2 separate regions of the Homo sapiens genome follow, and region 2 is linked to region 1. The links come from fine-mapping of genetic effects on gene expression. A gene starts in region 1. The other region holds a variant in brackets. All regions are shown on one strand. Distances are between the middles of the regions.

Region 1 (16,471 bases):
CATCATCTACAATGGCAGTTCTAGCATTTCTGCTTCACTTAGCATGAGCCTTCACTTTCCAAGTTTCCAAGAGACAACCTAGCACTGGATTAGCATCATTCCTTGAGGTCCTTTTTAGAGCGTTTAGAGTAATTTTATTTCTATAAACTCTCCCTTACCCAACTTCATATTCTATCTCCCTTGCTTCAGCACCCTCTGGATTAAGTCCACGTATACTCCTCTGTTCACGTTTAAGTCTCCGCAGCTTCTCTCAGATAGAGTTCCTTTTCCCTCTCGCCAAGCCCAGCACTTTGTTGAATGGGTTCTACTGTTACTTGGCCCTCCTCATTGGTCTGGTTGTCAAGAAGGGAGGTAGAAGTCAATCCTCTCCGGGCAGCACACCTGGTCTTGAAAGGCAGAGTGTTCTGTTATCTTCAAGCAGGGCTGGGGATGGGGGAAGTTATGCAGACCAGAAGCGGTAGAGGTAACCTGGGTTGCAAGGTTTTCAAGTGAGTTGACTGAAGTGTCACATCCCAACTTTGAGGTTTCACTCCTCCCAATCTCAGCTCTAATCTTGACAGAATGGTCTTGTTTAGGTTGAGGATTCAAACTTCACTGCAGTTCAACTACCCTTATAATTAAGCATTCGGCCTCATGCCCAGGATCTTCTGTAGAGATGTGCTGCCAAGGGGCCCTTGACTTTCACACTCTGCTTTAAATTGGTGATTACTCACCCTCTATCTTTCAAGTAAGAACCATCTCATTCAATTGTTTTCATACTAACTAATCTCCCCTAGCCTCTCCAACACCTGAAAGACTGCATCAGCGAGTGCATTCCTTTCACTGTAACTTGTTTGTTTTTTGTTTTTATCCTCAACCCTACTGCCGTTTCGACAGGTTATTTTTTTTCTTGTGGGGGGCAGGGGTCCGTTCTGTTAAGCACCATCCCTGGACACTACCTGCTAGATGCCAGTAACACCATCATCCCCTCTCCCTCAACACACATACATCATCTCTATCAGAATTGTCTCAGGCTTCAACAAGCGTTTCCAGAGAGGGGAGAAGTATCGCGCCACTGAGAACAGCACTAGCTCATCCCAGTTCAGCATTGGTGAGAATTTTATCAACTGCATTGCCACAGCACACCAGGCCCTGTCCTCTTTCCACCTGTTACCAATGATCTCTCTCAATAGGTTACGGGTTATTCAGTTCAAATTCCCTTTTTAGATTATTCTTTTGTGGAGTGCTCCTGGCACCACCTGCTGTGTATCAGGTCCCCAGGGGAGTAGATCTTGGGATGGATGTTTGTATACAGAAAGCTTTCTGGGGACTGCTAGGGGAAAAGCATCTGTTGGGGAGTGGGCAGAGGAAGAAGTTGAGCCATTATGCAACTGAAACAACTTTTCATCTTTCCCACAGCGAGCACTGGAGCTAGGATAATCCTTTAGAGATGTCCAAATTGTATCACTAAATCAACCACCATTGGATGCAGGTTGCCTCCAGCTTCTACTGATGGAGGGTAATTCCTAGGAAGTTTTCAGCTATGAGCCATCAGCAGTCAGAATTACTGACTCCTGGGGAAATGAGTGCTTCACAAAGGCTGTGCACCATGACATCCACTACAAAGACTGAAATAGAAAATCTTGCAAAATAATTTATTTTCAAATTAGTCAGTAAAAGACTTAAATTTTGCTGTTAAAGAGAACTTGGTAATGCCATGGCATCTTGTGACAATCCAGTCATTAAGTTAACAAATATTTACTGAATGTCAAGCACTATTCTGGAAGCTAAGCAGTGCATTTATGTACATGAAGAGTGATGTTATTTTGTCATAACAAAATCAACCATATGAGGAAGAATAAAACTGGGATGTGATACCATGAAACGTATTCTATACATTGATTGCTTATTTTAAACATATTACCAATAAAAAGAGGCAACTTAGTGTATTCAGTGCCTCTCAGGGGTTTCGTGTGGACTTGTCATTTACAGTCCCATTGGTGAACATAATATCTCCAATGCATTTGGTTGATTGTTCACTTTGAAAAAAAAAATCAAGCTTTAGTGATAATTCTAGAAAAGCAACGAGTCTTCTTAATAGGTCTGGAATTTTTTTTAATTATTTGGTTTATTTTTGTGGTGGCCAGTGAAGGGTGATAGAATTAAGTGTCTCCAGGGTAATAATATTGGTGGTTGTTCTTAAAATATCCCCCACTGATGAGGTTTGATGACATCTTTAAATGTCCTTCATCTCAAGGAAATTGAGTCATGCTTTAGGAAAGGAATTGAGAAACATTTTAGGAAATGTATGTATGGAGCAAATAATATAATGTTATATAACTATTCAAATTCTAAAATATAAAGCAGTGTTTGGAAATATTTTTATTGTACTGACTTCAGAAGTGTGATGGGGAAGGGGGCATGCTAATGGCACCTAGCTTTTAGAAGCCAGGGGTGCTGTAAATACTCTACAATGCACAGGACGGTCCGCAACAACGAAGAGATCTCCAGTCCAAAATGTTAAAGGTGCCAAAGTTGAGAAACTCTTATATACAGAGAAATAATATTCTCTGTACTCAGCCAGTTAATTAGTTTTCAGTATTTTGTGAAAACTATGCAACGTTCTATACACTTCAGGTTCATACAAAATAATATTCATATTGGCAACTTTTAAAGAACAGTTATTCTACACATTTTTAAGATAAAGCATTAAAATCCTCGTACAATGAAAATAAAAATTTCTGTGCATATCTTTTTTATTATCATTAAACATTTGTGAGATTTAGTCTCCCTCCCTCTGCACCTGCAAGTTTAGCTCCTTAAGGAGGAGTAATTGACACCTTGACATGCATGTTCAGTCACATTCCAGGTCCTGAGTGTGTACTGACCTAGGCTGGAATTAAAGCAGCAGCCACATCTTTACTACCACCTACTGAGAAACACAGTTAATTTTTCCTTCAAGATCTAATGTCATGAGGCAACCGTGACTTTGGGATTCCAGCTTTACCCATCTCTCCTTCTTAAAAATGGTGATGCAAATTATACTCAGGACCCTAAAGCACTAGAAACTACCCGTGTTCTCTCTGCCTCTTCACCCCTAAACAACTACTCCCTTTCAGACATCTTGCCTTTTAACCTTGTCTCTGTTCACTTCCTATCCCTGGCACCAAGCCCCCACTGGCACTGAAGCCCTCTTCTAGTCCCTAGTTTGGAAATACGTTCAGATTCTTCACACCTGCGTCTTTTCCAGAATTGAAGCCAGTCTCCCAACTATTAACATAATGGGTCATGACAGATTAACTAGGAGGTAAATATTCACGGAATTGCTCACTTTAGGCCGCTGAATTTAGACATTGTCTTCCATTTTCTATAGAAACTTTTTCCCCTGTGACATTTTGAGTGCTGTATTGTAATTGTTTCTTTATAGGTCTCCTTTCTCAATCAGGCTGAGAGCTTTCCCAGGAGACTGATTTTTCGTCTGCGACCTGCAGAATAGAGTATGGGACATAATGGACTTTGAAAAATGTTCGGTAAGTAACAAAATGCCTGATTGAAAATCTCATTACTACCCTTAGTCTTTGGCCAGTGGCTGCCCTTCTAGGTTTTAGAATCTAGTGTCAACTGTGATACTAGTGCATTTTCTCTGCCTCTGCCCTGTTTAGGTGCTGGACTCTGGGGCTGTGTTCTGTCTGTCCTATCTCTTCTGTGCTGATATGAATAAGCCATATTGTCTTGAGCTTGTGTAATGCACAGATAAGTCACTACCTAGTAATTCAAACAAATTTTTTACAGGATTGCTTTAATGAACAACTAAAGAACTAGTAATTACTTTAATCACAGGCATTTCTGTGGCTGCAGCAGTAGAGACCATTAATACCAAAAGGCCTCAGGCATCTAAACTGGTTTAGAGAGAACAGAGCTTCTTTGTAAGTAAATGACTTTTAATCAGAGGCTCCAAAGCTGTCACTGGAACTGTGGCAATTTACCCAGACACAATTAAAGCTTCTACTTTAAATAAAGAAATAAGAAAAAAAGAATATTTTACAGGAGAAAAATGAGAAATGGATTAGCATTTACATAGACATGACATTCCAGTGAGTGAATACCAATGCTAGAAATGATGATTATGATGAAGAAATGCAGAATTATATGCATTAAACCTACAGTCTGAACAAAAATGATCAGGAAAGAATGGGTGTATTATCCAAAAATTATATACCAAATAAATGGAAAAAGATTTGTAGCAGAGCATTGAAATGGAATAATACTATAGGGATTTTTTAATATTATAATTGTATGTATTATAAAGATGGAAATGCTGCGTAACTACTATTTTAGAAAGGATTTGATCCAGTTATTTGGACCAGCATATGAAAATAAATATTTACTATTTAACATTCCTATGCCTTTGATTTTTGTTTTTTGGCTACAGAAGCCTCCAAAACTTATGAGAATACAATTGCATCAATCGTTTTAAAAAGTTTGAGTAAAAGAGTCTGAGATAACTACATATGTCAATCAATTTTTACAATGAAAAATACAAAATAGAATTAAAGTTATTTGTTATTAGTGTTTCCAATAAACAATATAATCATTCTGCAAGCGCCTAGAGATTTAGATATCACGCATGCTACACAATTAAAGAATGGCAGCATAAAGAGACTGTTACCCAATGGAGCCAGTGTTCAAGAATATTTAGTGATGGTTTATTGTGCTTGAATGATGGACCTCAAGTGAAATCTCTTTTATGTATATATAGTTAATATTTCATCTTATTTATTTATAAATCACTTTGTTTCAAAATTGAGCCAGCTACATTAAATACTCATAATTCAAGATAAGATGTAATTCAAAATGAATAGATGGGATAATTTCCAAGTAAGATCTCAAGAGGCTGAATCCTCTCCCCGCAAGTGAGGATGATCATTCTCTGTCCACCACTCAATGCCTATGATAGTGCCTGGAACAGAGGCAGTACTCAAAATTATCTGCTGAATGAACAGATGTGACTCGAATGCCCATTTTAAATTCCTCCTCTCCTAGACTTTTATTGAAATAGTCACCAGAACAACAAGAATAGAAAGACTTTTAATTTGTTTAATTTTTTTAGTATAGATAAAATCTTGCTCTGTTTTCCAGGCTGGAGTACAGTAGCTTGATCACAGCTCACGGCTCAGGGCAGCCTTGACCTCCCAGGCAAAAGCGATCTTCCTGCCTCAGCCTCCTGATTAGCCGGGACTACAGGCATGTGTCACCACACCTGGCTAATTTTTTTTTTTTTTTTGTAGAGACAGGGTCTCACAGTCCAGGCTGATCTCAAATTCCTGGGCCCAAGTGATCTTTCTGATCTCCCAAAGTGCTAAGATTACAAGAGTAAGTCACCACACTTGGCCTAAGACTTTGTTTATTTTGTCAGAGTTAAATCAATCTGGAAGAGAGTAGTGTTTACTACAAAGTAGTATATTTCTGCTAAATATAGTACTGGTGGGGCTGGAGGAAAAAAATTAACTAATTAAAAAGCTGACCTGACCATGTGGGAAGGAGTAGCCTATTTGAGAAGTAAAGCTAGACCATCATCCTCCAATTCAGAATGGCTTGGGCTGAAACCGGCAGCTGGCTGGTGGGACAATCAGAAGCATGTCTGATTCCCATTATCTTCCTCTGGGAAGAATGCCAACTACCAAAGACGACATCTATGGAAAAAACATAGAATCACTTTTAATGGGCTCACAACACAACACAAATGGCCGTGCCAGGAACAGAATAGCTGCCATACTAAATAGGGAGTTGAAACTCCAGTTTTTCCATTTCTCAAGCAGTATGTCATTGAACTGGCAGAGGAAAACTAGAGTAAATCTTAAGTTTTTCATCGTCCTTTATTTAGAAGAAGATGGTTAAATAATAATGTACACAATCTTGGAGAACAACCGTCTCATTTTTTAATATTAAGCAAGCATTGAATTTTGTGGTAAATTCAAGCAAACTGTACATGATAATCATAGTGATGATAATGATAGGCCCAAAGAAAACATCAAGTTTATTTTCTTCTGGAAAACAAGGTTTCCTGAGGCTTTCAATCAACCACACTGTGGTCTGGAGATAGACTACAGTGTGCATCTGAAGTACCTGCAATGGGTGTGATAGGGAAATAGATTCTGTTCATGTCTGTCTACCATGCGGGAGCCAGTGAAGCCTCCTCACTCTGCCCCACACAGAGATCTCTGGGGCATGTCCCTAAGAGCATCTCCCAGCCACCCTTTTCAGGGCTGGTGCCTGTGCTTGCCATTGGGATACACATGGGCAAGCCAGAGGCTCCAGCTCTGCCCAATTGTGTCCGGCCTCTTCCACGGAACACCAGGAACCCCACTATCCAGCTCTTCACCTGAAACAGCAAAGAACACGTCACAGTAAACAGATCAGGGCCATACCCTCCCTGTTGTGCAGTAAGTAGCTGGCTCTTACCTGCAAATGTCATCTATTGGCCTGTAGGTTGAACCCAATACAAAACCTGCTGCATAGGTCTGTAGAAGCAGAGCCAAAACAGCCTGCCCACTACAGCCATCTCCAGATGAGAAGGAACCAGTGTGAGAATTCTGTCTGAATATTGTGACATCACCAGAGGCTCACAGTAGCTCTCTAGCAATGGTCCCTAGCAGAAAAGGAGGCACAGAGATGCAGATGGAGAATTCAGAGCATGGATTGCAGGCAAGTTCAGTGCAATTCAAGGTAAGATTGCAAATCAACACACAAACAGAAAAAAACTTCTAAAGCAATCCAGGAAATAAGGATAGAGGAAAACATTTTAAAACAAAATCAATCAAAGCCACTGGAACTGAAAAACTGAAGGGATTTCAAAACAGAATTGAAAGCATATTTTTTAGTAGCATAGACCAGGCAGAAGAAAGAATTTCAGAGCTTGAAGATCAGTCTTTCAAACTAAACCAGTCAGATAAAAATAAAGAAAAAAGAATTAGAATAGATGAATAAAGCCTCTGAGAAATATGGGATTTGAAAAGCAATCAAGCCTATGAATTATTAGTATGCCTGGGAGATAAGAAGAGATAGTAAACAACCTAGTAAACATTATATTTGAGGACAAAATTCAAGAAAATTGCCCTAATCTTGATAGAGAGTTAGACATGCACATACAAGAAATTCAGAGACCACCTTACTGATACTATACAAAACAAACATCACCAAGGGATATAGTCACCAGAATGTCAATGCTAAAGAAAAAAATCTTAAATGCAGCTAGAGAAAAAGGTCAGATCACAAAAAAAGGGAACCCCAACAGGCTAAGAAAAACTACTCTGCAGAAACCCTACACGCTAGAAGAGAGTAGGGGCCTATTTTCAGCATCTCAAAGAAAAGGAACTCTGACCAAGAATTTCACACCCTGTCATACTAAGCTTCATACATGAAGGAGAAATACAATCTTTTTCAGCCAAGGCATTGCTAAGAGAATTCATTACCACTAAACCAGCCTCACAAGAGATCCTTAGAAGAGTTATGAATACGGAGATGAAAAACAATACCTGTTACCAGGAAACCACACCTAAGTACACAGCCCACAGACCATTTAAAGCAACTGCACAATACAGACTGCAAAACATCCAACAAAAAACTTCATGATAGGATCAAAACTTCAAGTATCAATATTAACCCTGAATGTAAACAGTCTAAATGCCTCATTTAAAAGGCATAGGGTGGCAAGTTACATTAAAAAATAAAAAGACCCATCCATCTCCAATTTTTAAGAGGTCCATGTCACATGTAATGACATCCATAGACTCAAGGTAAAGGTTGGATGAAGATCTATCATACAAATGGAACATAAAGGAGCGAGGGTAGTTATTCTTATGTCAGATAGAATAGACTTTAAACCAACAACAGTAAAAAAAGAACAAAGAACGACACTACATAATGATAAAGGGTTCAATCCTACAAGATGACCTAACTATCCTAAATATATAAGCACCCAACATTGAAGCAACCAGATACACAAAACAAATACTTCTACAACTACAAAAAGATGTAGACATTCACACAATAATAGTTGGGGATTTCAATACCCCACTGACAGTGTTAGATTACCGAGGCAGAAAACTAACAAAGGGATTCTGGACTTAAATTGGATACTTGACCAAATGGACCTAATAGATATCTACAGAACACTCTACCCATCCACCACATAATATACATTCTTCTCATCTGCACACAAAACATACTGTAAGATTGACCACATACTTGGCCTTGAAGCAAGTCTCAATAAATTTAAAGAAATCAAAATCATACCAACCATACTTTTGAACCACAGTGGAAAAAAATACAAATCAAGGTCAGGCACGGTGACTCATGCCTGTAATCCCAACACTTTGGGAGGCCAAGGTGAGCGGATCACTTAAGGTCAGGAGTTTGAGACAAGCCTGGCCAACACAGTGAAACCCTGTCTCTACCAAAAAATACAAAAATTAGCCAGGCATAATGGCACATGCCTGGAGTGCCAGCCACTCCGGAGGCTGAGGTGGGAGAATCCATTGAACCTGGGAGGCGGAGGTTGCAGTGAGCTGAGATCACATCACTGCACTCTAGCCAGCCTCAACAACAGAGTGGAACCCTGTCTCAAAAAAAATAAAAAATACTAATAAATACCAAGAAGATCTCTGAAGAACACACAATTACATGGCAATTAAACACTTGTTTCTGAATGACTTTGGTGTAAACAATAAAATTAAGACAGCAACTTTAAAAGTCTTTGAAATTAATGAAAACAGAGACACAACATACCAAAATCTCTGATATACAGCTAAAGCAGTTTTAAGAGGAAAGTTTATAGTGCTAAATGCCTATGTGAAGCCATTAGAAAGATCTCAAATTAACAATCTAACATCCCACCTAGAAGAACTAGAAAAACAAAAAAGTAACCCCAAAGCTAGAAGAAGGAAAGAAATAACCAAATCAGAGCATAACTGAACAAAACTATAAGCAAAAAAGTCATACAAAGAATTAGCAAAGCCAACAGCTGGTAGTTTGAAAGAATAAACAAGATTGATAGACTGCTAGCTAGATTAACAAAGAAAAAGAGAAAATCCAAATAAGTGCACTCAGGAATGACAAACAATATTACAGCTGATCCCACAGAAATACAAAAACCCTAAGAGGCAATTATGAAGACCCCTGTGCACATGAACTAGAAAATTTAGAGGAAATGGATAAATTTCCAGAAACACACAACCTCCCAAAACTGAGTCAGAAAGAAATCAAAGCCCTGAACACATCAATATTAAATTTCACAATTTAATCCATAACAAAAAATGTACCAATCAAAAAAAGTCCTGGATCAGATGGATTCATAGCTGAATTCTGTGAGACATACAAAGAAGAGATGGTCACTGTGGTACTAAAACGGTTCCAAAATATATAGGAGGAGAGACTCCTCCCTAACTCATTCTACAAAGACGTCATCATTGTGATAGCAAAATCTGGCAAAGACACTATGAAAAAAATGAAACTACAGGCCAATATCCCTAATGACCAAAGATGCAAAAATCCTCAACAAAATATTAACAAACCAAATCCAGCAGCATATCAAAAAGTTTATTCACAACAATCAAGTAGGCTTTATTCCTGGGATGAAGGGCTGGTTCAACATACATAAATCAATAAATGTGATTCATGACATCAACAGAATTAAAAACAAAACCACCTGATAATCTCAAAAGCTGCTGAAAAAGCTTTTGATAAAATCCAACATGCTTTCATAATAAAAACCTTCAACACAATAGGCAAGGAAGGAACACACCCCAAAATAATGAGTTATCTATGACCAACACCCAGCTGACATCATACTGAACAGGAAAAAGCTGGAAGCGTTCCACTTAAGAACTAGAACAAGACAATAATGCCCATTCTCACCATTCCTCTATAATGTAGTACTGGAAGTCCTAGCCAAAGCAATCAGGCAAGAGAAAGAAATAAGAAATAAAAGGCATCCAAATAGGAAAAGGAGAAGTCAAATTATCACTCTTCACTGATGATATGATTCTATACCTACAAAATCCTAAAGACTCCAACAAAAGGCTCCTAGAATGGATAAACAATTTCAGTAAAATTTCAGGATACAAAATCAATGTACAATAATCAGTAGTATTTTGACATGCCGATAACATTCAATCTGAGAGCCAAATCAGGAATTCAATCCCATTTAAAATAGAAAAAATAACTAGGAATACATCTAAGGAGATGAAAGGAATACACCAAGGAGATGAAAGATCTCTGCATGGTGAACTACAAAACTGCTGAAGAAATCACAGATGATAAAAAAAAAAATGGAAAAAAATCTCATGTTCATACATCGGAAGAATCAATATTGTTAAAATTGCCATATTGCCCAAAGCAGTCTATGGATTCAATGCTATTCCTATCAAACTGCCAATGACATTTTTCACATAATTTTAAAATACTGTTCCAAAATTTATATGAAACCAAAAAAAGGCCTGAATAACAAAAACACGTCTACATAAAAGAACAAAGCTACAGGCATCACACTACCCAACTTCAAACTACACTACAAGGATACAGTAACCAATATAGCATGGTACTGGTACAAAAACAGACAACATAGACCAATGGAACAAATTAGAGAACTCAGAAATAAAGCTGAACACCTAAAACCATCTGATCTTTGACAAAGTCAACAATAAGAAGCAATGGGGAAAGGACTCCCTATTTAATAAATTGTGTTAGAAAAGCTGACTAGATCTATGCAGAAATTAACTGAAGATGGATTAAAGACTTAAATGTAATACCCAAAACTATAAAAATCATAGAAAAAAGCTAGTAAATGTCATTCTGGACATCAGACTTGGCAAAGAATTTATGACAAAGTTCCCAAAAGCAATTGCAACAATAACAAAAATTGACTAGTGGGACCTAGTTAAACTAAAGAGCTTCTGCACAGCAAAAAAAAAATTATCAACAGATTAAACAGACATCCTACAGAATGGGAGAAGATATTTGCAAACTGTGCATTCAACAAAGGTCTAACATAGAGAATCTAAAAGGAACTTAAACAATTCATCAAGAACAAACAAGTAATCCCCTTAAAAAACAGGCAAAGAGCATGAACAGAAATTTCCCAAAAGGAAATATGCATGTGTCCAAAAACTACATGAAAAAATGCTCAACTTCACTGATCATCAGAGAAATGCAAATCAAAAGCTCAAAGAGATACCATCTCACACTAGTCAGAAAGGCTATTATTAAAATGTCAGAAAATAACAGATGTCGGCAAGGTTTTGGAGAAAAGGGAATGCTTATATAATGTTGGTGGAGATATAAATTACTTCAACCACTGTGAAAAGTAGTGTGGAGATTTCTCAAAAAAAAAAAAAAAAAACCTTGAAACAGAGCTACCATTTGACCCAGCAATCCCAATACTGGGTATAGAGCCAAAAGGAAAATAAATTGTTCTACCAAAAAGACATGGATGTGTACATTCATCACAGCACTATTTTTAATAGCAAAGACATGGAATCAACCAAGATGCCCACCAGTGGTGGACTGTATAAAGAAAATATGATACATATACACCATGGAGTACTATGCAGCCATAAAAAGAATGAAATCATGTTCTTTACAGTAACATGGATGCAGCTGGAGGTCATTATCCTAAGCAAATTAGCACAGGAATGGAAAACCAAATATCACATATTCTGACTTCTAAGTGGGAGCTAAAAATTCAGTACACAGGATATAGAGGTGGGAACAATAGACGCTAAGGGACTACCAGATGGGGAAGGGTGAGGTGGTGGCAAGGGTTGAAAAGCTTCCTATTGGGTACCATGCTCACTACCTGTGTGACAGGATCATTTGTACACCAAACCTCACTAATATGTAATTACCAATGTAACAAACCTGCACATCTACCCCCAAAACTAAAATAAAAGGTGAAAAAAAAATGATAGATATCTGAATAGGCTAGATCTTTACTTCATAAATATATTTTTTTAATTCTCAAAAAAATCCATCTAGTAGAACTTCCAAGAGAATGCTAATAACCACATTATAGAATATTTTTCTTTTAATTCAGCACAAATGAAGACATGGTAGTGTACTACAGAACAATCTCCAATATAATAAAAATTTTATCAAAACCAAGATAACACTTGATGGTGAAAAATTGCAACTATTTTTAAAGTCAGAAACATTAGGAGTGTATTTCTTTTACCAGTCTTATTAAATGTATATTATCAAGACATTATAATCGATGCAATACTAATAAATAATCCAGGCCAATAAATAGCAGAAATCATAATTTTCACATTATGTTATTGCCTACTAAGGAAAACTAAGAAAACCAACAAAAACGTGATTAAAACTCAAAAGTGAATTCAGAAAAATGTCCGATTTCCAAACTTCACAGTGTTCAATGTACCGATAATAATGTTTGAAAACAGTGAGTAAAAATACTTTTCTCATAGTAACAACAAAAGTTATAAATAGATTACAATAAATTTATAAAGAAATGCGCAGAATCCAGACAAAGTAAACTACAAAAAGTTTATTGTGGCATATAAAAAAGACTAGCAAATGAAGACGCATATTATAACACTGGAGTAGAACTTAATGGTGTAAACATTCTCATCCTGTGTAATTAATATGGCCTAAGTGTAATATAATTATGATAAAAATAGCTGAAAAATGTCTTGTGAATACAAAAATGTTACTGAAGCTTGTTTAATTGAAAAAAATGAGGCTAAATCCTTCAAAATAAATGTAAAGGAGAGTACACTTCCAATTATTAAGATGCATTAAAGTGCTTCAATAATTAAAATAAGATAGCCCATACTGATTGGAAGAAGTTCAAAGGCTAGAAATAAAAGAAAAACTCCAAAGAACAAAGGTATAAATAGAATCTACATATTTATATTTTACATAAAAGAAGTCTGGAGGCGGATAGTTTAGGGCTGGCAAGACAGCTCCAAGTTCATCAATAACTGAAGCTTTCCACCTGGATATTTTTGGTGTATAGTTCCATCCTAAGTGTGGCTTCTACCCTCTGGGTTATGTTTTAGTCCAATACATTTGCTGGAACCCATCCATCACTTCCACACTGCAGGGCAGAAGGAAAAGTAAAGCCAAAGGAGTAAAAAAGGAATTCCTCTTCAATGAATGAGTTCCCTTTAATCAGCCTTCCCCTGTGGCCCACTTGGTAATCTTGATGGCATTTCATTGGCCAGAACCTAGACATGTGACCACATCTTGCCATAAAGAAGGCAGGAAATCATAGTTTCATTTGTACGTTATTTACCTAGCTAAAAATTAACACTCATATTTCTAAGAAGGAAACAGGGAATCAATGTTGGACTAAATAATGCTAGCATCTGACAAATGATAGGAAATTAGTCTATAATAAAGGTGGCATTTTATATTAACAGAGAAATGATGGCTTTTTTCAAAAATAATTCTGAGAAATTAGATAACTACCTAGAAAAATGTTAAGTTTACTCTTTCCCTATAGTATTCAGAATTTTAAATTATGTATTATTTAAATTTCTATAATTTTAACTTTTTTCTGATTCAAAATAAAATATATCATTGAATGCAATTTAGGAAACATAAAACAGTATACCAAGCATATCTATAATGTTATTACCATAGATTACAATGATCAATGTTTTGAACTTTTCTTTGTATATAAACATCTGTATAGATTTATATAAATGGATATAATGTGTATATAATATATATGTATATTTAATAAATATATATAACATATATGGGTGCATGCACAAACATATGTATATGTATAAACACACACACACACATACTCAGATCATATTGTATGATTCAGGGTGGTGTTGCTGAAAACATTGGAAACCGATCCTAACACATAAAAAAGTCATGCATCACTGAAAGATGAGGATACCTTCCAATAAATGTGTGGTTAGGGGATTTTGTTGTTGTGTGAACATTATAGAGTATGTTTACACAGATCTAGAAGGTATAGCCCACTACACACTTAGGCTATATGAGCCAATGCTCCCAGGCTATAAACTTGTATAGCATGTTACTGTACTGAATGCTAGAGATAATTGTAACAGTATGGTAAGCATTTGTGTATCTAAACATATCTAAAATTAAAATGCTACAGTGAAAATATGGTATTATAATAGGACTACCATCATTGATCAAATATTGTCATGCAGTTCATGACTGCATTAAAAAGTAGCTCAGCAAAAAATAGAAAAACCTACAGAAGCAAAAGGAAAACATCAAGGACATATTATAGTCAAAAGTTAGGTTACTACAAACCATCAAATCCTACTTAGGTTTTACAGAAGAATCAGAAATATGCCTCTATGCCTTCCAGAGATATAATCAGTGATGTAATCTACAGAATCCGTAAGATATAAACAAACTCTTTCCTATTACAAGAATGGAAAGAAACTTAAACCTTAGGTACTAATGCATAACAAGCCATGCAATATAATGCATAGGAATTTCAACAACAAAAACAAGGCTGTTTCTTATCTCTCAGTGTAAACCCATATAATCTTGGCAATGTGTAGTTCAATAAAAGCTGTTCGACAGGAAGCCAGAACAATTTTGTCCACCTCTGTAGCAGTCTGTTGTTCTGAACAATACAATGAGAAAATTGAGAGTCACTATAGCAATGGTTTTCAAAATGTGTTCTAGTGGAGGATCTTGGCTTCCAGGCAGAAAACAATCAACTTTTAATTCTTAGAGGGCTGCATGAAGTTTGCTTGAAAACAATTTTTAATTAAAAACAATAGTAAGTCTTTAAAATTTAATTTTAGTGTAATTGGTGGTCTGCTTTTTCTTTAGTCTTCCATAAATACTAATTCTCTTAGTTGAGCTTTTGGTATTAATTAAAGACATATTAAGCACCGACCACTAGAAAAACTGGCTCAAATAAAACTATTCAAATTGCTGGCTAAGCATAGAATGCATGCTTAAAGAGCCAGAAAAGCTGGGTATAGCATTGACATTCTCTTGCAAAGGTTGCAGCCTTACAAAGGCACACATCTCATTAGAAAGTCACCCACACAAAGTTTGGGATGGGAGAGCATCCAGAGGCAAAGCCAGGATTGTCCTCCAATATTGTTGTGGTCCGCACTAATATTCAGACAGAAAGATTATCAGCGCTCATAGTGTAATATTATGACCCCCAAAGGGCCGTATTCCATGGAAGAAGCTTTGTATGTATTTGAGTGTATTCTCAGGGGCCTACTAGATATCAGGAAATGTATTAACTGGCCTTATCATTTCAAACAATTAAATGAAGGTAGAATAAAGAAGTGTTATTATGATAGTGGTAAGATCATAGTTAGAGAAGTCAAGAGTTTCAGAACCACCTAGACAACCATTCACTCAAGAACAATGCAGGTCCAGATGACAAAACAACTAAATTTTTATTATTTGCTGAACAGCAGCCCCACATACCAATGCTGAGATTTGAAGAGCTAAGCTGCTAGGATGCACCCTGGGAAAAGGCTTGTGCAATGCAGTCCTAGAAAAACTAAAACCAAAGCTGGACAAATGATCTTCTTTGTCTATTCACAGCTCAAATCCTATAAAAGACTATATCCAAGAGTACCAGAAAAACAGGTAAGTGGATGTGTTTAGTTAGTATAGATATATTAATAATTCTCCTTATAAAATTTTATTCTTAGAAAATATAGTCAATCAGCCCATGTTCTGACATCTAGATCTCTTCTTGGTGAAATTAGGCAGGTAGGAAGACAAAAGGGGTTAAGTGAGGAGAAAGGTGTATAGAATTCCTTTCCTAGAAACCAATATTCCCTGGGATGTTGTTTGTATATGGTTAACTAGGAACACAGCTATTCCACTCAAGTAAGATCAATGGAATATAGTACTAGAGAAGTCCCACTGAAAACTTTCTGTCACTTTCGCTTTCTGTCTATATATCTTCTTGGGACTAGTAAGATACAGACATACACACATCTTCTCCAACAGTTATGAATGACTCTTAATTATTTCCCCTGAAAGATTATCCAAAGGGTCAAGGAACAATATTCTTTTATTCCCTTTCTTTTTCTGTTGAATTCCATCTTCCTAAGAACTAAGGGGCATGTGGAGGTCAAAGCTTTAGAAAGAAAGTGGTATGTCAGCAGTTCCTGAAGAGGGCTCACGAGAGCTGTCCAATACTAGCAGAGCTGAAACCAGACCTCACCATGGCTCTTGGGTCCTGAGACCGGATAGCACTTACAGAGCTTTGGTTTTCTCCTTTGTAAAATAGGAAGGGTGTTGACTTTACGTCTATGATTTGTTACATCTCTTCAGCCAAAGTGATTCAACTGAGCCCCATTCTCTATCAGACCCTTTTCCCATGACCCACGTACTTATGCAGTGCTCAGAGAAAGCCTGAGCCCCATTCTCTATCAGACCCTTTTCCCATGAACCACGTACTTATGCAGTGCTCAGAGAAAGCCTGAGCCCCACAACA
Region 2 (16,471 bases), 140 kb after region 1:
TTTCAATGTGTGTGATTTTTTGAAAATATCATCTTATTTTTTTCTCTCAAACTTTGGAGAGCTTAAAAAATAGCCTGCTACAGCACAAAAAGTAAGAAAAGTTAGCCAGTGTTGGGGAGCAAAGCTCTGTCCTCTGCGGGCCAGTTCCCTACTGGGAGGCAAAGGATGTGATTTCAAGAGTGCCAGGAAATCTGCCATGCCTCAAAATATCTTCCTTTCCACCTGTCATGGTGCCTGACATTCCATATTTAGACAGTCATTCCTTTGGTGCATGAACATGCAAATACCACTGGGAGGGGAAACACCTTGCTATTATTATAAACTAACTCTTGCACTGTATTTATCTGTGTGAGGGATCAGGTGTCCATGGGACAGCTGAAATCTAGGGGCTTAGAGATCTGAGAAATAAGACAGCACTGTTTCTGTTAGGAGGAAAAAGGAATTTAAACATGTTTATAGGAAAACTAATAGCCAATAAAATTTACCATAATGAATCATCAATTTTACTCTGGTAATTAATCATCTTGTTTTTTGGTTATTTTCTAGCTGACATTGATGACATGAAAATATGCTATGTCTTAAGAGAAGGGGCTAATGCCACAAGTGATATGTTCTATTTTGCAGTTGAAGATGGTGGTAAGTATTCCCCTCTCCTGGTAGTGACCGCAAGGAGAGACGCTTTTCTTGGTTGCTCTCTGATGACATTATTACAAGAAGTCTTCATCAAGTAATATTTCATGATCACCTAAATTTAACCTGGTATTTGCTGTAGACAATTTTACAATCTCACTATGACACAATCCTACTATGTCATGGCTATAGATAAAAGTTCTAGTTATATCACTTTTGTCTTACTATTTGTAAAGCACTAAAGAGAGAGATCTGTATAAATAGGATCTCCATGTCTAGTTGTTCAGATTACACCCTGCATGAGTTTGCCTACTTGAGTCAGTAAGAGGATGTTGGAATTCAGCTGCAGTTCCACTCATAGCCATGTGCTCACTGAGGTGTAGCTGCCCAAAGGAGCTGCTTTTTCCTGATTTGCTCATGGGTTCTGTGTGGACTAATACTGATGGAAAATGTGTTGCATTCACCAAGAAATCAGTAGTAAATTAATGTCTGTTTTATCTCACCAATCTCAGGACTTCTAATGATTTTCTTAGTTTGGGGGATTTTGTGACCTAGTCCAGCTAAAAATTTTTCTTGGTTAAGTGTGAAGAATACTTCAGAGTATAGGATGTGACTTCTGAGCTAAGTCTTTTGGGCGATATTATTCTCATTACTCCCCCAGAACTGCCTGCTGTTTATACTCCTTTCAGCTTTGGATCTCTTGTCTTCCTAACCCTGTGGGTGAGGAGAAAAACTGGTCACTTTCAGATTGCTCATAAAGATGTTTTTGTTCTTGCATGTTTTCTTTTGAAGCAAAAGAACCTCCCCTAGTACATGTGTTGTGTGAACAGGACACCAGAACTGAGGGTATATGTGAGAGAGCAGAGAGAGGAAGGAGAAAAATAATTCATACTCTGTTATCTGTTTCCTTATGATGCTTTTTAAAAATGGCACACTATTATGTCGTCTATCTCAAAAATACTGCATCCTTACCCTCCATGTTTTTTGAAGCATTACATAGTATTTGTTTAAAATATCAATGGACACAACATGATCACAGTTCTGAAAAATGTCAATTGTTGAGTGTGTGCCAGAGAGGCAAACAAAATGTGTTATGTTGGGTTCAACTGTTTGATTCCTACTATGAATCAGAGAGTCAATCATGTGAGTGCCTTTATTTTTTGAGTAACCAAATCATAGTTTAGTATTCTACGTATTGATGAAAGGCATCTTAGCATAAAACGAAGTTCTAAAAAGGAAATCAACTCATAAAAAAAACCTTCTTGAATTTTGCTGCTCAAATGGGAAATTCTATTGTAACTAACTGTAGAGTGAAACCCTGAAATAATCCAAATCTCTGTAACATATATAAAAATTTAAGGATGAAATTATTGGTTTAAAACACCATGTTTATCTCTTAGGATGACTGAGTAAACCTCAATAGCAAAAGTGTGACTTTCTGTAAAATTACCAAAAAAAGTTTCAAATTCAATGGCTGCAATTACACTAAAATATTCTATACTTTTTAATAAAATATTTTGCTTTTTTTGCTCATACACAAACACACACACATTATTTTACCTTACCTGGGTGGAATGGTAGCATTTACTTTAAAATTTTGGTCTCTATTCCAATTTTGGAAAACATTCTATAGTATCATATTTCAAAATATTAAGTGCAAAATATTAAGTGAAGAATGACTAGCTGAAGGGGCTCGGTTTATGTTTGAATTTGCTGAAAATGTGGCAAGGCCTCCAAAGATTGTCTTTATGGAAGTAGGAACATATCATTTTAGGAGTCTTTTTAGAGAGAGAGTTTCATGTGAGAGATAAAAATTTCAGATTTTCTTTTTTACCCTCTTCCTCTTTACTGGCATAACATTACCTATGGAGCTCAGGCAGATTTTGGCAAGCTGTTGAATAGAATTTACTTTAATTCCCCTGATATAAGAAAACTATCCTTTGACAGAATAAACACAGAGACCTGCAAGATTAAAAAGTCACATTGGTATCCCTAAATTGTTTTAACCTGATTCTTAAATTTTTTTAGGATTTTTGCATTGCCGTATAAATCTTCTGACATTTGAATGAGAAGTGCAATACTGTTTAAACTTAATTAACTGTAGTGATTTATTGTCGTCTAGTCTATACAATGATAGTAGGCATATCTATAAGTCATCCCGATGAAATATGAAATGTGTGAGTATTTCACCCCTGGGAAGCAAGTCAGGGCACAATGGCATAAAATTGAGAACTCTGTATGTCCAGCTTGCTTTCCAATCTGATAAATGCATCTTCTTCAAATCAACGTGATTGATTTTATAACAGTAACTATCTAAGGAAATTAGTGGGGCAACCATCATCCATGAATAACCTTAAAAATAAAACATAATTCAATTTAAGGGATTTAGAGTAGGAGAAGAGATTGAGAAGAACAGAAGGCTCAGACCTCTTGTTTCAGATTTAATTGTGTTACCATGGGAATCTGGCTCGCCACAGGATTCTTCTGTTATGATGTAGTAATGGATTAGTGACTATCCATTACTAAAAGGACTATGCTTGGGAAAGGGTTACTACCTTTGAAGTTTTGGAGTGCTTTGGGACTTTTACCAAATGACAGAAGTAAAGAGAGCACTATCTGAGCAACAGATAACATCAGGGTCTTTACCTCAGGGGAAGTCTACTGTATTTGGACTTAATACACGTTGGTTGATATAGCACATGTCCACACACATACACAGATCCTTGTATCTTAGGGTTCTTTCAATTAGATTTCAAACCTTCTATGTTATTTATTGTTTCTTATGCGATTTTACCTTCATAACATCTCTGTGAGCAACAAAAACAGCAAAAAAAACTTAGTATGATTTCTATTTGGCAGATGAGGAAACTGAGTCACCAAAATAAGTAACTTTCCTCCTTCAAGCTGCACAGCTGGGCAACTAGAGGCTGCTTTCAATCTCAAATTCTTTCCTCAGTAATAAGCGATAACTTCCACACTTATTCAGGATAGGGATAAGAGGGGGAACTCTTGAACTTCTCTGGGTTCTCCAGACCAACTTTCTAGGAATGTTTAATAGATGTGAGTGAAGTCAGAGTAGGATCTGCTTTTAGGATAGACAAAGAGCTTTGTGTTTTCTAAAATGTGCATTTTTATTTTAAAATACTTTAAAAGTTGTAGTGCCCTAAACTTTGTAGTACTCTTTCTTGGTATCATAGTGTAATTCTCTTTTTAAAAACCTTTGTTTTCGGTTCAGAGGTACATGTGGAGGTTTGTTATATAGGTAAAGTCATGTCAAGGGGGGTTGTTGTGCTGATTATTTTGTGACCCAGGTACTAAGTCTAGTACCCAATAGTTACTTTCATAGTGCAATTCTTAAAATGATTATTTTATAATGCAATATGCTTATTGGAATATTAGTAAAGAGCATGAAAATGTGATATCAGAATAAGGCACTCACCCAGGTGTTCTGGGCCAGTCAACATACATGAATGCATCATTACAAAGTATAAGGTCAAACTCTGAAGTTCAAGAATATATTCCCGCTGTCTGCGGCTTCATCTAATGAGCTCGTGTATATATGTAGCAACTGCCTGTGGATTTAGCTGTCTTCCATTTCTTTTGGTTTTCGTGCTTTATATCTTCACGAAGGTAACTTATAATAATACAGACCTGGGAAATACATCTTCCTTTGTTGACTGCCTCTTTGAATTGTAATTCCAGATCCAGTACTCTGGAATTTTGTTAGGGAGAAATAAAATATTTATTCTTTTATCCTCTTTGTAGTCAAACATTTTTATCTGATTCCTTCTCAGTGTTCAACTCTCTGTAATTTTTCTATAAGGTATTCTAACATGAAAGTGCTTTGTCGGGCCCTTCTAGCTCTTTATTGTGATGTGAAAGCTGGTCTCAAATAACTATTCCAGGCATGCCCCACCCTCAACCCTAATGATTGTTAATCACTCTTCAACACCAGGCTCAAATATCATTTCCTCTCCAAAGTTGCTCCCAACATCACAATTACATAATTAGTCTCACTCTTTTTTATGCTTTTCTCCCCAACTTTATTTACAGTAAAAATTTATATTATGATTATTTGCTAATGTGGAAACCTCCATTAGTAAGGAAGAAACTCCTTCATATCAAAAAAGGTATCATTAATCTTTGTACCTCAGTGCCAAGGCTGAGCACGAGGTAAATACTTACCGAACATTAAATAAATGAATGGATAAACAGGAGAAAAACAATTGCTCTCTTTTGACATAAAGATCAATTAAATAGTATTATATGAAAAACTCCTATAAACAATTCCCAGTAGACCCTTTGCATTCCTTTAGAACGTTGTTCTATCCTAGCATTAATTTAAATCCCTATGGCACCAGGAAAGTTTTTTAGTGAAGCTTTCACATTTTTAAACGCATGAAATTAACTAAATCAACTGCTGTGAAAATTCCTTCAAAATCTTCAGTGAAATGTACTTAAGATTGAAGTATTAACCACCAGTTCAGAGCTCATATTATTCTTAAACAAGCCTTTTCAGAAAAAAAAACTTGTCGGTTTATTATTAAAGAATTATACAATTTAAAATCTAAAAGGAAATAACCATTTCCTATAAGTCACTAAAATTTTCAAGCCAGCAGCACCACTACTGTATTTTCAGTTACCCCAGTATTTTCTTGTGTGGTATGAGATAACATTAGGACAGGTGGAGAAGTAGAAGACAATACCAGCAAAAAGTATCTCTAGTTTTCATTAAAAAGTCCTCGTGTAAACTTTTTTGTTTGTTTGTTTTAAGTCTCAAAGCCTCAGCATCAGATCCAGCTTGTTTCTTGATGGGCTTGAGAAAAAATTAGAATACATACCTCAGCATCAGATCCAGCTTGTTTCTTGATGGGCTTAAGAAAAAATTAGAATACATGATCACCTGGCTGGACATATTGAGTAGGAGGAGTCTTACATTTGTATTCATTATGAAAACCAGCTTGCTGCTTCCTTATTTGAAACCTCTCATATGACATAGGCATGCAGTCTCAGTGAGTTCTGCCTGCTGAGTTTGGCATTGAAACTGGGGCGGCAGACATAATATCTGTGTTGGCCATTATAGTGTTATCTGGGCCACAGCCAGACATTTTTTTGCTGCTGTCTTTGATTATGCCTTTGGTGCCCAATTTTCCATCCCCCAAGATCCTTGATTCATATGCTATTGAAGGATATTATAAATAGTATCTTGACATAGTAGAAGCTGCAAAGTCATTTCTGTATATGAAATGTCATTTAAGGTCAAGGCTTTTGAATTGTTATTCCGTATTTGATGATTGACTCCTCAAACACAAAGAGACTACCGGAAGCCTTTCATTTTTAATAGAAGGAGTACAAGTTTTTGCTTGAAAATGACCAATAACTTTGGGGTTTAAGGCAAAATAATTACTGATAATTAGCTTGAAGTTAAATCAAGGGCTGGAAAAATATAAATAGAGTAAGTAGAAAAGAGAGGTCTGAGTACAAGCATTAAAAGATTATACAGACATATTCAGCTCAGAGAAAAAAGCAAGCATTCTTGGCAATAAAATTAATTGCTAGTGACATGAGAACCAGGGGGAAAGATGCTAGTGCCTTAGGGAGTTATAATAAGATGGTGAAGTAATGTCAGGCACTGATACAAATATTTTTAATCTGTGAGAGACCACAAGGTCTACTAGAATACAGATCTTGGGAAGGAGTGTTGGCTACTGTGGCTGAATGTTTGTAAGCCTTTCACTCTTCATTGAGCAGTTCACAATAGATCAAGTCATCAGGGTGTTTCTAGGCCAGATCCCTGCCTTTAAAAGCATGATTCTATTAAGGTACCTGTACTGTGTGCAAGAACGAAGTTAAACCTTTTAGATAGAAAAGTATAAACTCAAGTTTTTATACCTTTTAGATAGAAAAGTAAAACTCAATTTTATTTATTATTATTCTTTAGATTCATTCCAAAATTATACATTATATGAATATACTGTTTTCATTGGCTTTAGTTCCGAGAACATTTTTTTAAATTGTTAAATCTTTGGGTGACAATGAATTCTTGTTAGGAAGATTTCTAGAAATTTCACATGATTTCATATTACTCAGAACAAATGATAGTCACCTTTTAAACACTAAGCATATTTTTCATAGGTGATTAAAGTACCATAATCTCAAATCAAATATTTATTTGTGGCATATGTTAATAATTTGATAGTATCTCAATCTGTCTCTTTACATTTGCTCTGATGGCTGGGAGAAGTGGGAAGTTATTTTCAAAGGAGAAGCACACAGTGGTAATTGGTATTATTCTGTATTTGCCAGAACCTAAGATAATGCAACAGATAACCAGAATGCAATGTAAAAGAAGGGTCAGAGTTTCTATGGTGAATCTTATTGGCTAAAGCAAGATTCCTTGTAAATTTCTTTATCGAATTACTCAACAAATATTTTTGGAGCACCCACTCACCATGTTTCAGGTGTCCATTGGGGTCTGAGAATACAGTGATGAATATTACAGTCATGATCTTTGACCTGAGATTCATCCTTAGGATAAAGAAGTAGACGAATGAGTTAAACTTTGTTTAAAGTATTCTGACAGTTATAATTAAGCCCCAGATAGAGACACAGCTGTCAGGAAAGGCACCTGAAAGGTGGTATTTAAGTATAGACTTAGGACAGGATGAAGCTGCCACTAGAGGAAGGGAAGAAGAAACCTTCCAGGTGGCAGCAAAAGCATGTGCAAAGGGACTGAGCTTTGTGTGTTCAAGTCACCAGAAAAGCACCAGCATGCCTGCAGCTCCATGAACAAACCAGAGAAGGTAACAAGATGAGGCTGGAGAGCTAGATCAAAGCCTGATGGTGCAGAGCCTTGTATACCCAGAGGAGTGATTTAGATTTTGTGCTAAAGAAAAGAGTATCCACCTGTATTAGTCAGTTTTCACAGTGGTCTAAAGAACTACCTGAGATTGGCTAATTTGTGAAGAAAAGGTTTAATTGACCCAGTTATGCATGGCTGGGGAGGCCTCAGGAAACTTACAATCACAGCAGAAAATGAAAGAGAAGCAAGTACCTTCTTCAAAGGGTAGCAGAGGAGAGAGTGAGTGAAGGGAAGTGCCACACTTTTAAACCATCAGATCTCATGAGAACTCACTAGCTATCATGAGAACCGCATGGGGGAACCGCCACCATGATCCAATCACCTCTCACCAGGTTTCTCCCTCGACACATGGGAATTCCAATTCGAAATGAGATTTGGGTGGGGACACAGAGCCAAACCATATCCCAAACTAAATCATTTTAAAGAAAGGGAGCATTGTGTTCCAATTTGTGTTTTAGAAAGATGATTCTTGCAGGTGTAGAGGATCTATAGGAGGGCAGCAAGGGGAAACAGGAAGATTGACATGAGGCCGATGCAGAAAGACAGATGTCATATGGGAAGAATAAGGTAAGCTTGATATAATGTTGGATCCAAATCTGTAAGACTTATTGATGAGTTGGAGTGTAGGGTAAGAAAAAAGGAGACCGTAAGCATGATTCTGGGTTTTACAGCCAGCAG[A/G]GAATGGTGCTGCCATTTATGGAGATGAAATAGACTAGAGGGGCATGGACTAGGTTTAAGGGAGGAAATTAAGAGGACATTAGAAACATATTAATTATGAGACCTCTTACTTCTTTGAAATGTGTATACAGGAAGCCAGCCTTTTGATCTTGCTTATCTTTTCTTCCATCACAGTTAGAAGCGCAGCTTTAGGAGTGAGAGCTGGAACAAATACTGCTTGTGCCTCTTACCGTAATTGGTGACGTGACCCTGAGCCAAGTGACCGAGACTTCCTCAGCCTCAGTTTCATTTATAAAGTTGGGATAATAACAGTACCTAGCTAATAGGGTTCTTTTTAAGATTAAGTAGATAATTCATGAAAATAAGATCATTCATGCGGCACAGTTCCTGTCACATAGTAACAACTATGCAGGTAGCTGCTGCTGCTGTAGCTGCTACTCTGAGGGCTTCCAGAGCTATGCTGTTCTTTATTTTTCTTTCTTTATTTCCCCTCCCTCCCTTTCTTCTTTTCTTCCTTTCTTCCTTTCTCCTGTCTTTCTCACAGCAGCTGTCTATACAGTTAGACTGTTCATTTGGTGTTGGTAGAAAGATGGGGGAATACACAGGGATGGAAAGTCAGAACCTGATGAGCCCTTCTGTAGTGCAACGTTTCAATGCTACGGAGGCTTCCAAAGTTATTTCACACGTTGTAAGTAGTTTAACTAATATTTTCATTACAAAAATGATAACAAATGAGTTTTCACTATGGCCAAATAACAGAAATTTTTAAAAACCCACTGTATCTCTGAAGCTCAGCCTGCATGTTTTATTTCTCCTTTTTAAGGGTTGAAGTGTAAACTTTATAGGCTTGAAGATTAATACCGTATCTTGATTTGATCAAAATATAACCCTTCGAAACATCTGGGTTTAGCAAACATGAGGTTCAAAGGGTAGTTTTGATTGCAAATCTCTAATACACTGAGCCATAAGTGGTTGGAGAGATTGATTAAATGCCATGTTTATTCAGATATTGGAATCGCCTAAATATGCTTTGTTATATAGAGAATGATATAGTCACCCCAGTGGCCAGATGCCCCATTTAGTCAATATCATAGAGAAAAAAGCAAGTAAATAAATGTACCTTTGAGAAAACTAGTAAATTTAGGCACTGAGAAGAGCTTGTTTTAAATTTAGGCATTAAGGAACTTGAAATTCCTTACTGGGGTCATTGGAAAATGAGTGTTGTGTGTATGTAGATACTCCTAACAAGTTCCTTCAAAAACTCAATGTTGCTTATGGAAACAATTTGTACTAAAAGAATGCTTCTTGATTTTATTTTATGAAAATATAAAATCCTGCTTTTTCTGAGATTAGAGGAAAACTATATGCTTTTTAGAATCTTGTAATTTTAATATTTTTGTAAGTAATGATTGGGTAATGAATAAATTTTATTTCACATCTACAATCACAAACTTCCTACCTGATAAGTATTAAAGCCTTGTACCTTTCTACAATATCCCAATGAGTTCAAAAGGACAAATGTCATACTTAATCCTCATTGCAAATAAGGAAAAATAAGATTCATTGAAGTTTAACTTTGTGACACAGTGATGAATGCATGAATCACACACATGAATAAAGTATAGGTACTTTTGTTCTTGCTTCACAAATGTGGATTGATTTCATAATGTACATTTTCTAAGAGCAAAAATATTTGTATAAATGAGAAAAAAATGTTTTTCTTAATATTCTGTTTCAGAACAGTTAGTGCAAGTTTACTAAGATTATTAATTTATTAATCCGGTTCTGCCCTTTATAAAAAAAATTGCCAAGTGGCTGCATATAAGCAATGTTTCACTGAGGGAATATTATGTTAAAGAAACAGTGTACCTTCAGATGGTTTACACTTAGAATTCTTACATTTTTAGGAGAGAAGTTTCTAGAATGAATTATTCAGTTATAGCTAATTACCATTAGATATGATTCATTTTTTTGCAGAGTATTAGTATTCTTGGAACAAAGAAATTATACAAAAAGATTAGGGAATAAAATTATATAGCTATATTTGGTTTTCAACTTAGAACATTTTTTTCTGCATGTTAATTTCATGCTAAGCTTAGAAAATAGCAGCCTTCATGGTAGCTTTTGATGAAGGAAGTGAGGACACAATTGTCCTCTTTCTATTCCCAGAGAGCTCTGACTACATTACTGCAGGTTGAGAGAGAAGCGCCTGTTCTCCATCCCTCTGCTGGATTTTTTAGCACAGGAAGGTTTAATCCTTTCATCTTTGTAATGTGCCACCTGCTACCTTTAACTCTACTTATCCAGCTGTTAGAGGCACGAGTTGAGAACACTGAAAACAGTGTTTTTAAGAATAGTTCAAGAGTGCCACTTCAGAAATTGAAAATAAAGTTGTGAAACTGGTTGGTAGACTTTAGAAATCCCCAAGAAAGAAAAGAACCATTTTGTGTCCCCGTAATACTTCTCTTGCTTTACTTGATTTTATGCAGAAATGGCCAAAAATTAAGTGCATTGCATCACTGCTATAAAATTATGAAAGGTAGGCTACATTTAATCCTTTAGGAAATTGTTTTCTCAGTTTCTTCTTGCCACCTAAACCTCAGGGTCATTTTGTTTCACCATCCGTGTCCACCCAGGTGCTAAATCCAGGCAGCTTTCCCTGGTTCCTGAATTTCTGTTGAGTAGGATTCCCACACATTCTCCATGGCCATTGGTTCCTTCAGAACCACATTGAAGTTTATCTTAAATGACGTAACAGATGTAAACTGCTTAAAATAATCATAGGCACAAAGTAAGTGCTATATTCATGTTAGCCATTGACCCCCACTATAATATATGCTGTCCATGAGAGCCAGGATTTTTATCTCTGATTTTCATTGATATACCCTCAGTGCCTGAGTACATATAGGTGCTCGATAAATATTTATTGAGTGAAGGAAAATATTTCTTCCAGTGCAATTCTAATGGATCTCTTTGTCTCTTTTTGCCTTCCCCTCTGACCTGGATATAGCTTGTTTCCAAAATTACCTAAAAATACAAATGTGATTTTAGACCGGGCGCAGTGGCTCATGCCTGTAATCCCAGCATCTTGGGAGGCTAAGGAGGGCAGATCACTTGAGGTCAGGGGTTCGAGACCAGCCTGGACAACATGGTGAAACACTGTCTCTACTAAAAATACAAAAATTAGCTGGGCCTGGTAGCGTGTGCCTGTAATCCCAGCTACTCGGGAGGCTGAGGCAGGAGAATCACCTGAACCCGGGAGATGGAGGTTGTGGTGAGCTGAGATTGCGCCACTGCACCCCAGCCTGGGTGACAGAATGAGACTCTGTCTCAATAAATAAATAAATAATCTTTAAAAAAAGTCTTTCCTCCCTTCTTCTGCCATAATTTTCTAAACTGTAAATTTGATGTTGTCTCTACTTTATAACTCTCAATGTTTTGTTTTGTTTTGTTTTGAGACAGAATTTCTCTTTTGTTGCCCACGCTGGAATGCAATGGTGCGATCTTGGCTCACTGCAACCTCTGCCTCACAGGTTCAAGCAATTCTCCTGCCTCAGCCTTCTGAGTAGCTGGGATTACAGGTGCCCGCCATGACGCCCAGATAATTTTTGTATTTTTAGTAGAGTCAGGGTTTCATCATGTTGGCCAGGCTCGTCTTGAACTCCTGACCTCAGGTGATCCACCTGCGTTTGCCTCCCAAAGTGCTGGGATTATAGGCATAAGCCACCACATCCAGCCTCAATGTTCTCTCACAGGATAAAATTCAGACTCTTCCCATGTTGTACAAACTGTGCAGGTCTGACCCAATGCAACCATGCTGCCTACTCAGGATTCCTGCACATGCCATGCTACTTCATGCACACTCGCCTTTCCTTTCTTCCTCAATCCCCTGCCCACTTCCTCTGCATGAGATTCAGTAGAGATGGCACATTTTCTTCCTGACACCTTCTACTCCTATCCTTAGGGTCAGACATCTCCGCTGTGTTTCCCATAACAACTCATATTTGGATCTCAAAGCTAGATTCAAAACATGGATGTATATAGCAATATATTGATTTATATAATAATTTAAATCATTATGCCAATTGTAAAATATTATATATGTACATATAACTGTGTAAATATATAGACACATACATGTATACAAATACATAATTGCTTACCAAGTGATGTATGGGGCAGCACAAATATTTAATAATATATAATATAATGTAAAAGGTTGTTAGACTATTATGTAGATGCATATATATTATGCAGAATATACTACATAGGTATATATACCTATGTTATATGAGAATGCTTATAAGTGCTATATCATAGTACAAATTGCTCCTCAAATCACACGGATAATTTAAAAATCTTTTATTTTGACGTCATCTTTTATTTAAAGTGGCTTTCACAAGCTGAAGGGTACTCTCCTAGGACCGTGATTTGACACAGATACTGTACCAAACCCTTCTAATGACTTTACCCTTAAACTGCTTATTATTAAGTGACTTGTAGTCCCAATTGGTAGAAAATTGCTCTTAACATCAGTGATGGCCGGGCGCGGTGGCTCATGCCTATAATCCCAGCACTTTGGGAGGCTGAGATGAGTGGATCACTTGTGGTCAGGAGTTCAAGACCAGCCTGGCCAAACGGTGAAAAATTAGTCTAACTAAAAATACACACACACACACACACACACACACACACACACACACACACACACACACAAATTAGCCGGGCGTGATGGCACATACCTGTGTTCCCAGCAGGAGGCTGAGGCAGGAAAATCGCATGAACCCAGGAGGCAGAAGTTGCAGTGAGCCGAGATTGCGCGACTGCACTCCAGCCTGGGTGACAGAGTGAGTGAGACTCTGTCACGAAACAACAACAACAAAAAAACACAAAAAACATCAATGATATTGGTCACGGTGCTAAATCTACTCAGCTTTTCCTGAATGAAAGCAATTACATTCAAACTATTTCTAAGACTTAAAAAATATATGAGACTCATATATTCAATATCTCTATTTGTAGATGAAGTCACAAAAATTATTCACTGGAATGCAAAGTTTAATTAGGTGAATCTATGTACTTCAGGACCAATGAGAAGAGAGCTCTTCTAGGCATTTTGGCCTTGAACCCTGGCTCTGCCAAGTTTTCATTAAACTTTCTGCTAATCTGTTAATCAATCGAGATGCATTTCACCCTAACAATTGGTATACCAGCCCTAAATGTACCACTCTGTACTGGAACTCCTTATATACATTTGTGTTTACAAAGCTTCTCAACTGCGAGAGCTGTTTCATTCATATTTATGTCTCTTCTTCAGTGCTGAGTTGCCTTAGTCACCACACGGCACTTAGTAGGAGGTCAATAAATACGTGTGGAGTGAGTCATAAATAAATGTAAAGCATAGGTGAATTGTTGATTTCTATTTTCTCTTAAAGTTGCATGTGGAGTAACTTCAGAAGTCAAGAGAAAAATCTAAAGAAAAACAGAATAGGCTTACCAGTTAAAAATAGTGTAAAAATAAATGGAAGCTTGTGCTTACTTTCTATATCTTTCAAGAACACATAGGTGTATATGGACATATACTTTCCTGTAATTGTTTGCACACACTTTTATGGTGACATCAAACTCTTGCTCTTTATAAATGAAATTGCTGTCCTTATTTGTACACCCCTAGGTATGTTTCTAGTGTAGAGATATCACTTCCAGATATTTCAGCATTTGTAGATGCTGCCATTTCTTTGACTTGGTTCATGTAATAAGCATATTGTACCTTCTTGATTTATGTTCTGGATGCTGTTGAGAATGGAGTGAGTTTACACCCTTGTCTTAATGTGCTCACTTTAATCTCCCATTTCTCTGCATCACTTTGATAAAACTGAGACAACCACCAGCTCCCTTTCCCTTCCCATCCCCGTCTTCGCCTCCAGCCAGTATGTATGTGGTAAAAGTAAACATTAGAGAGTCAGTTAAATGACAATTCATGTCTGTTTCATTTAATGTAGGATGAAGATAGCAGTAAGAGATAAAGTGGACTAGCAAAGCATTTTATACTAGATTAAAAAAATAAGTGATGTTACTAAATGATGTGGTAAAGTAAACCTATCTGGAAATATTAATGAATCACTTGTTTTAAGATGCTATCTTAGGAGCCTGTGTTTTTTACCATATTGTTTAAATATTCACTGTATGAGCACACATAGTGAATGTAGTGAAAACCATGTGTTATAGAGTCCTTAGAATTATGGATACCATATAGCATTTGATTTTTGATATTTCAAGGAATGGATTGTTTTTTAAATAGAAGATTCCTAAAGTTTTAATGTCTTTGATCATATCATAAGTGTATTATATTCATGCATAGATAGTTTTTAAAATAGTCTTACTACTTCCCAAAAAATTTAAAAGCACTTTAGGATTTTAAAGAAATTTTTTCTATGGAAAAACTGAAGTGAATCGAGTTTATGTAAATTTAAAAACCTGGATTAAAAATGTGGTCAACACTTTGTTATTAATATCCCCAAGCACTGAGAGTGACCACAAACAGTTTTAAATGCAGTGGCTTATCTTGTGGGTCTCTGGGGCTGATAATTTCTTTTTTTTTTTTTTTTTTTTTTTTTGAGGGGATTCTCGCTCTGTTGCCCAGGCTGGAGTGCAGTGGTGTGATCTCGGCTCACTGCAACCTCCACATCCCAGTGTTCAAGTGATTCTCCTGCCTCAGCCTCCCTAATAGCTGGGACTACAGGCGCCTTCCCCCACCCCCAGCTAATTTTTGTAATTTTAGTAGAGACGGGGTTTCACCATGTTCCTCGTGATCCACCTGCCTCGGCCCCCCAAAGTGCTGGGATTACAGGCGTGAGCCACCGCGCCCAGCCCCTGAGAGTTTAAGAACTAGATGCAACAGAGCAGAGCCAAAGCATGTGGTGTATGCACTGGATGTGGCTAAGGGCTCTTCTGCAATACTCTAGACAAATATGATTCTGCCTTGTTAGGTAGTTGCTTAATTCATAGTGGTTGTATTACCAAGCCCAAGTTTCCTTAATATAAGTAGTAGATAAAACTGATTAGGCCGCCTTTGAATCTACCAATATAGCTAAATACAAGTTTTGCTATATTATTCTTTCTTCCTCAAGGACAATATATTTACATAGACCCTTCAAGTATTTTAATGATCATTTGGTATATTTATTAATTAGAATATAGAAAGCATTTTGTACCCATTTCAATTTTTATCCTATCAGTTGCCCTAAGGCAGGCAGATATACATACACATTTTCTTTCTTTCTTTCTTTCTCTCTTTCTCTCTGTCTCTTACTCTCTCTTTCTCTCTCTCACACACACACACACACACACACACAAACACACACACACACAAGTACACACACAGACTTTTCCTGTGAGATTCCAGTGTATTACTATTTGGAAACCAGTTTCATACTTTAGTAAGTTAATAAAATTTTCCTGGTACTAGTGCCAAAATTAGCCTCTTAGGAAATAGTATTAAAAAAGCTGAAAATATTTTATTACTTACTGACTTACTCCTAGATAGTAACATGATTGAGCATTTAATTCTCATAGTAATTAAGTGCCTGTATCAGATGTGATTCTTCTATCATCCCCATTTCTTTCAGTGGTATGTCTGTTTGCTCAACCATCTAAACATCTTTTAATTCTCCTCCCCCATCCTCTGTCCAAATAGTCCTCACAACCTGCTATTTTTCATTTACAATATCTAATTTGACCCTCTTTTGCATATCTTTTGTGGGAAGCACCCTAGTAGCCTGAGTTACTGAATTATTATTCCAGTACTTTTCTAAGCAGTGTTCTCTCTCCTGTCTCCCCAACCTCAAATTCCTCCACAGTGCTTCATAGAGGAAGTCTTTGCATTTGTAAATGAATGAGAACTCTGGATTTAAACTCGGAAAATTGGTCTAATGCTCAGCTTTGCCACTTATTAACAGAGTGATATCAGGCAGGTCACTTAACCTCCCAGAGCTTTTGTTCCCTCATCTGTAAACCTGAAAACATAACGTAGCAGTGTCTCAGGAATGTGACAAGGACTATATGGCACAAGAATGTGAACATATAACCTAATGAATCTATAATGCATACTCTTATCATGGATATATTATTATATGGCATTATTTTTTGTCACCTACTGAAAAACATTTGATTTTCTTGCTTTATCTACTGATTAGATTGTGTTATATGTTTATTAATCTAGCTCATGGATTTAAGGCCAGCCATTCTATGGCCTTAACTGATCGCTCCATTTTTATCTCCTGTGATTTATCGGTATTCTCT

Direction of the effects. Alleles are on the strand shown, and positions count from the first base shown. SD is a standard deviation of normalised expression in the study named.
With allele G in place of A in region 2, the expression in prefrontal cortex of the gene that starts at base 6,634 in region 1 is higher (moderate effect, 0.62 SD a copy in CommonMind).

Evidence for each region. PIP is the estimated chance that this variant, and not a neighbour inherited with it, causes the effect.
Region 2: its variant is fine-mapped to the expression of LINC00366 in prefrontal cortex (CommonMind, PIP 0.92).

What each region holds. Positions count from the first base shown.
Region 1 is chr13:38,561,091-38,577,561 of GRCh38, forward strand. It overlaps LINC00366 (long intergenic non-protein coding RNA 366), which reads left to right and starts at 6,634. Exons shown (of 4, transcript NR_046999.1): 1 at 6,634-6,705; 2 at 15,568-15,612. All of the region lies in intron 2 of LINC00437 (long intergenic non-protein coding RNA 437), which reads right to left. LOC105370167 (a long non-coding RNA gene) reads right to left here and starts at 6,530. Exons shown (of 2, transcript XR_941883.3): 1 at 6,442-6,530; 2 at 5,994-6,361.
Region 2 is chr13:38,697,152-38,713,622 of GRCh38, forward strand. FREM2 (FRAS1 related extracellular matrix 2) reads left to right here. Exons shown (of 24, transcript NM_207361.6): 2 at 547-636. Among named protein-coding and RNA genes, the nearest start is that of FREM2, 18 kb to the left of the region's middle. RefSeq lists a silencer at 821-1,115. The variant A/G (reference allele first, on the strand shown) is at 8,171.